Linked DNA regions of Homo sapiens: region 2 is linked to region 1. The links come from fine-mapping of genetic effects on gene expression. A gene starts in region 1. The other region holds a variant in brackets. All regions are shown on one strand. Distances are between the middles of the regions.

The links. PIP is the estimated chance that this variant, and not a neighbour inherited with it, causes the effect.
Region 2: its variant is fine-mapped to the expression of ADAT1 in whole blood (INTERVAL, PIP 0.95).

The regions. Positions count from the first base shown.
Region 1 is chr16:75,621,776-75,624,805 of GRCh38, reverse strand. ADAT1 (adenosine deaminase tRNA specific 1) reads left to right here and starts at 1,525. Exons shown (of 10, transcript NM_001324445.2): 1 at 1,525-2,403. RefSeq lists enhancers at 1,212-1,731, 1,611-1,850, 1,732-2,251, 2,252-2,771, 2,772-3,030.
Region 2 is chr16:75,650,607-75,653,106 of GRCh38, reverse strand. The region is part of intron 1 of TERF2IP (TERF2 interacting protein); the gene reads right to left. Among named protein-coding and RNA genes, the nearest start is that of TERF2IP, 4.1 kb to the right of the region's middle. The variant A/G (reference allele first, on the strand shown) is at 1,548.

The DNA of each region.
Region 1 (3,030 bases):
CCTTTGAACTAGAGAGAAGGATGGGGTTGAGCAAGTTGCATAAATTTTTGAGGGGTAACAAAGAAAAATGAATTCTTTCATTTTTAGTAATAGAGCATTCAGTTACTGGGTGACAAAGGCCCCTGAAGTATCCAGGCAGCTATATTACTTATTCCCGGCAATCCAAAGGTTTTTAGACCTGTTCTGCCCACTACACTGTAGTAGTACTGTACTACAGTAGCCAGTAGCCACATGTGACTATCCAGCATCTGAAATGTGGCTGATCCAAATTGGGATGTATTCTAAGTGTAACACACACCAGATTTCTTAAACTTCGCATTAAAAACAGAACAGAACATAAGTATTTTTTAAAATATTGAGACTCGGCAGCCAGGTGCGGTGGCTCACGCCTGTAATCCAGCACTTTGGGAGGCCGAGGCGGGCAGATCACGAGGTCAGGAGATCGAGACCATCCTGGCTAACATGGTGAAACCCCGTATCTACTAAAAATACAAAAATTAGCCTGACGTGGTGGCAGGCACCTGTAGTCCCAGCTACTCGCGAGGCTGAGGCAGGAGAATGGCGTGAACCTGGGAGGCGGAGCTTGCAGTGAGCAGAGATTGCGCCACTGCACTCCAGCCTGGGTGACAGAGCGAGACTCCGTCTCAAAAAAAAAAAAAAAAAAAAAAAAAATATATATATATATATATATGAGACAGACAGACCGACCCCGGGCATCGTGACTCACGCCTGTAATCCCAGCACTCTGGGAGGTTGAGGCGGGCGGATCACTTGAGGTCAGGAGTTCGAGACCAGCCTGGTAACATGGCGAAACCCCGTCTCTACTAAAAATAACAAAAATGAGCCGGGTGTGATGGCGGGCGCCTGTAATCCCAGCTACTTGGGAGGCTGAGGCAGGAGAATCGCTTGAAGCCAGGAGACGGAGGTTGCAGTGCGCCGAAATTGCGCCGCTTCCAGCCTGGGCGACAAAGCGAGACTCCATCTCAAAAAATTTTTTGATTATATGTTGAAATAATACTATTTGGGATGTATGGGTTAAATAAAATATATATGATTGTTTCTATTTTGACTTTTAATGAGGCTACTGGAAATTTTTAAATTACGTATATGGTTCGAATTATATATCTATTGGACAGTGATGTTACAGATAGAAATACAGCATAGTCAGGAGAATCGCTTGAACCGGGAGGCGAAGGTTGCAGTGAGCCGAGATCGCGCCTCTACACTCCAGCCTGAGCAACAGAGCAAGACTCCGTCTCAAAAAAAAAAAAGAAAAAGAAAAAAATTCAGCCGAGTGCTGCAAGATACGTCATTCTAGTTGAAGGAATATCTAAGCCAACAAGCGGCTCCCATCATCCGGTTTCACGCCTCTCTAAGACGCAGCCAGGGCTGCGGGACTTGAAGCGCGGGAATCTCGGCCCTGGCACCGACTCCCCGGAAAAACTACAGGGCCCGGCATGCACTGCGCGCCTCTGGGAGCGGGAGCCGAAAGGAACCGGCGCTTTGTGACGTCACGTCCGCCTTACCGGCGGATTAAGCTCGCTTTCTTCTAGGCGCGTTTCCTGAAGGTGGGAGGGGAGCGTCCGCGAGGCGCTGGGGCGACGGGGCAGGTTTATCCGGGCTAACTTTGCCGAGTCTGTTTTTGAGGGAAGAGGTTGTGAGGATCGTATCTTCCGGGACGCGTTTCACGTGGGAAGGCGCTCCACGCCTGGAACTGTCAGCAGCCGGCGCCTGAAGAGCTCCTGGCGCGGGGCCTCTGGCCTGGCAGCCGCAGGACCCAATGGATCAGGCGCTCACGCTGTTCTCACTGCATGGCTTCAGTGCCTTGCCTGGCACCTCCTATCCTGTAACTGGCCGACTCGGGGTCCCACCCAGGCTTCTCCAGCGGCCGGGAAGGGGCTCTGCTTCCGGAAGTGTTTAGGAAGGGAGCCAGCGTAAACCAGAGTCCCTTCCTCCAAGCATCGCTGAAGCCTTTTCTCCCCTGGCAGCCGACTTCCTTTTCTTTGGAAAGGACGTCAGTTTTTTTAGCTTGTTGAAACTGTTCAGAGATGCGGTCTTGTGGGCAAATAAATGCCTGTTTAGCTGAGCTGTTATTTTCAGCTAAGAAGTTCTTCAAGTTTTCAAGATCTAGGAGGGGGTGTAGGCTCGAATTATAATGGACCCAGTGTAGCAAAACATTTATTCATTTAAACAATTGTGCATGCTCATTCAGACGCACTACCTGAGTGAGATGATGCCGTTCTGGGCTGCTTCATCTTAAAGAGAGTCACTGTTTCTTCTGGCAACTTCTACCTGCCTTGCCTATCGAGGTTTGTGAATTGCACCTCTGGTTTAATTTCAGGTCGATGGCCAGGTGGTCTTCATAAACTATACTGCCTTGTGATGCCTCCCTAGAAATGAGAGGTGAGTCCCTTCCAAACGAGGATTCTAGGATCTCATGCTTTCTTTTCTTGACAAGGCTTGCCCTGGCCCTCTGACTTTCAAGTCACAGGGTCTCACTTCCTGCAGATTTTTGTTTTAAATCACTGTGGTCTGATTTACCAGTAGCATTCACTACAGTAGCGAGCCTGCACGTTGCGCTGCAGGGGATTCATAACAATACCATCTTTCAAAAGCTGCATGCACTGGAGCTCAGGAAAGCCTTTTTTGTTTTTTTGAGAGGGAGTCTCGCTCTGTCACCCAGCCTGGAGTGCAGTGGCACAATCTCGGCTCATTGCGACCTCCGCCTCCCGGGTTCAAGCGATTCTCCTGCCTCAGCCTCCCGAGTAGCTGGGACTACAGGCACGCGCCATCACGCCCGGCTAATTTTTTTGTATTTTCAGTAGAGACAGGGTTTCACCACGTTGGCCAGGCTGGCCTCGAACTCCTGACCTCAGGTGAGCCACCGCGCCCGGCCTTCAGTTTGGTTTTACAGTGCTTAGCTATGTCTATCACAAGCTCATCTTCTACTGGGAAGCTTTTTGTATAATTGAGTCCAAATGAGATCAGGATGTGCCTAGTGAGCATTGATAGGGCCAAGAGTGAGAGATT
Region 2 (2,500 bases), 29 kb before region 1:
TAAAAAGGAATCAAATTCTGACACATGCTACAATATGGATGAACTTTGAAGATATTATGTAAAGTGAAATAAGCCAGACACAAAAGGGCAAATATTACATGATTCTACTTGTATGAGGTATCTAGAAATATTGAATTCATAGAAACAGAAGGCGGAATGGTTGTTTCCAGGGGCTAAGAGGAGGGAGAAATGGGGAATTAGTGTTTAATAGGCATGTTTCTGACCCCTAGAAGCAGAAAATAATAAAAGGCATGGAGTTTCAGTTTTAGAAAATGAGTAAGTTCTAGATACAGATGGTGGTGACAGTTGCCCAACAATGTGAATGCACTTAATAATGCCACTGAACAGAACACTTAAAAAACTATCTGAACTGTAAATTTTACGGTATATACATTTTACCACAATAAAAAATAAAGTTTTTAAAATGCATATAATTTTACACCATAAAAAGTTAATTTTACTGTATGTATTTAATAAAATTCTTAAATAGTAACTAAAAGAGGCTTATCTTTGAGAGATACATGCTAAAATAGATAAAATGATATGATGTCTGGCATTTGCTTCAAAACAGTCCAGGAAGTTGGGATGAAAAGTATAGATTTAAAAAATGCCATGAACTAAAATCAGGTGAAGGTGGGTGATGGGTATATGCAGTATAGTTCATTATACTATTCTGTATTTGTAAATGCTTGGAATTCTCCATAATAAAAAGTAAATTACTGTTCATTCACATAATGAAATACAGTGCAATCAATTAGAAAAGAATGAGGAAAAGCTTTGTGCAGACACACAAACACTTCAAGATAAATAATTAAGTTTAAAAAAAGTAAACCACAGATTAAGTTGATGTCTAGTGTGCTAGTATTACTATGAGCAAAGGGGACATGCAACAGACAAGAGACGGTAATAGAGGCTGCCCCTAGGAAAGGACCCAGGGAAAAGGGTATGTAAATAGGGAGACTGCCTTTTCAGTATGTACCCATTTGTACTCTGAGTATATCTACGGGATAAATTCCTAGAACAAAACTGCCATGTTTAAGGGAATATACGTTATAAATGTCATCAGATATTGTCAAAATGCCCCCCAAAGAAATTGTATCAATTTCTATTAACAACGTAGGAGTATACTTGTTTTCCCATACACTAACTTTGGATATTACCCATTGTATTGACTTTTGCCAATCTTATAGATAAAGTATAACATCTCCTTGCTCTGATTTAGTTAAAAAAAATAAATAACTTGGGGAGCTTTTGTTCTATTTTGTATAATGGAAGCTATCTCAATTCATCAAATAAATACAAAACAATTCCAACACACATATTTATTATCTCACAGGTCTCATGGGTCAAAGTATAGCTTATACTGACCCTAGGCTCAGGGTCTGATTTACTTTCTTTCTTCTTCTTTTTTTCTTTCCGAGATGGAGTCTGGTTCTGTCACCCAGGCTGGAGTGCAGGGGCTTGATCTCAGCTCATTGCAACCTACACCTCCCTGGTTCAAGCAATTTTCATGCCTCAGCTGCCTGAGTAGCTGCGATTACAGGCGC[A/G]TGCCACCATGCCTGGATAGTTTTTGTAGTTTTTAGTAGAGACGGAGTTTCATCATGTTGGCCAGGCTGGTCTCGAACTCCTGACCTCAAGTGGTCTGCCACCTTGGCCTCCCAAAGTGCTAGGATTACAGGCATGAGCCACCGCACTCGGTCTGATTTACTTTCATTTAATAACAGACTATTTCTTCATTTGTTTATCGGCCGCTTATTTATTTCCTTTTCTGGGAACTTCCTGTTCCATTTCCTTTTCTCATTTTTCTATTAGTTTTCTTTTTACTTAATGACTTCTTACTTAATGACAAAGAGCTCTTTAGACATTAAAGAAACTAAGTCTATTGCAGTGTATTGGGAATGTTTTTCCAGCATGCCCTCTGACTTTATTTATCATGAGAAGTTCTTAATTTTCAGGTAATCAAATATATAAAACTTTTTCTTTGTCTTTTTGGCTTCATAACTTATCACCATGCTAATATTTTTACTTTTTTTCTTCTGGCAAATCAGGCAGCATCCTGAACCACAAATGGTTCAGAGCAACTCCCACCATACTGATATATTCATTCATATCTTCTCTTACTCATTTTAGAATTTTTTAATTTTTACATTTAAATATCTGATTATCAAAAGATTACTTAGATGGGTAGGATGAATACAGCTTAATTTTGTCCCAAGTTCCAAATGGCTTGCCAATAGCCCCAACATCACGGATTTAAAAGCAAGTCCCAGACACAGCATGGTGGCTCACACCTGGAATCCTAGCACTTTTGGGAGGCCAAGTCGGGCAGATCCCTTGAGCCCAGGAGTTCGAGACCAGCCTGGGCAACACGGCCAAATCCTGTCTCTACAAAAAAATACAAAAATTAGCTAGGTATGGTGACGAGTGCCTGTAGTCCCAGCTACTTGGAAAGCTGAGGTGGGAGGATCCACTGAGCCTGGGAAGTCAAGGCTGCAGTGAG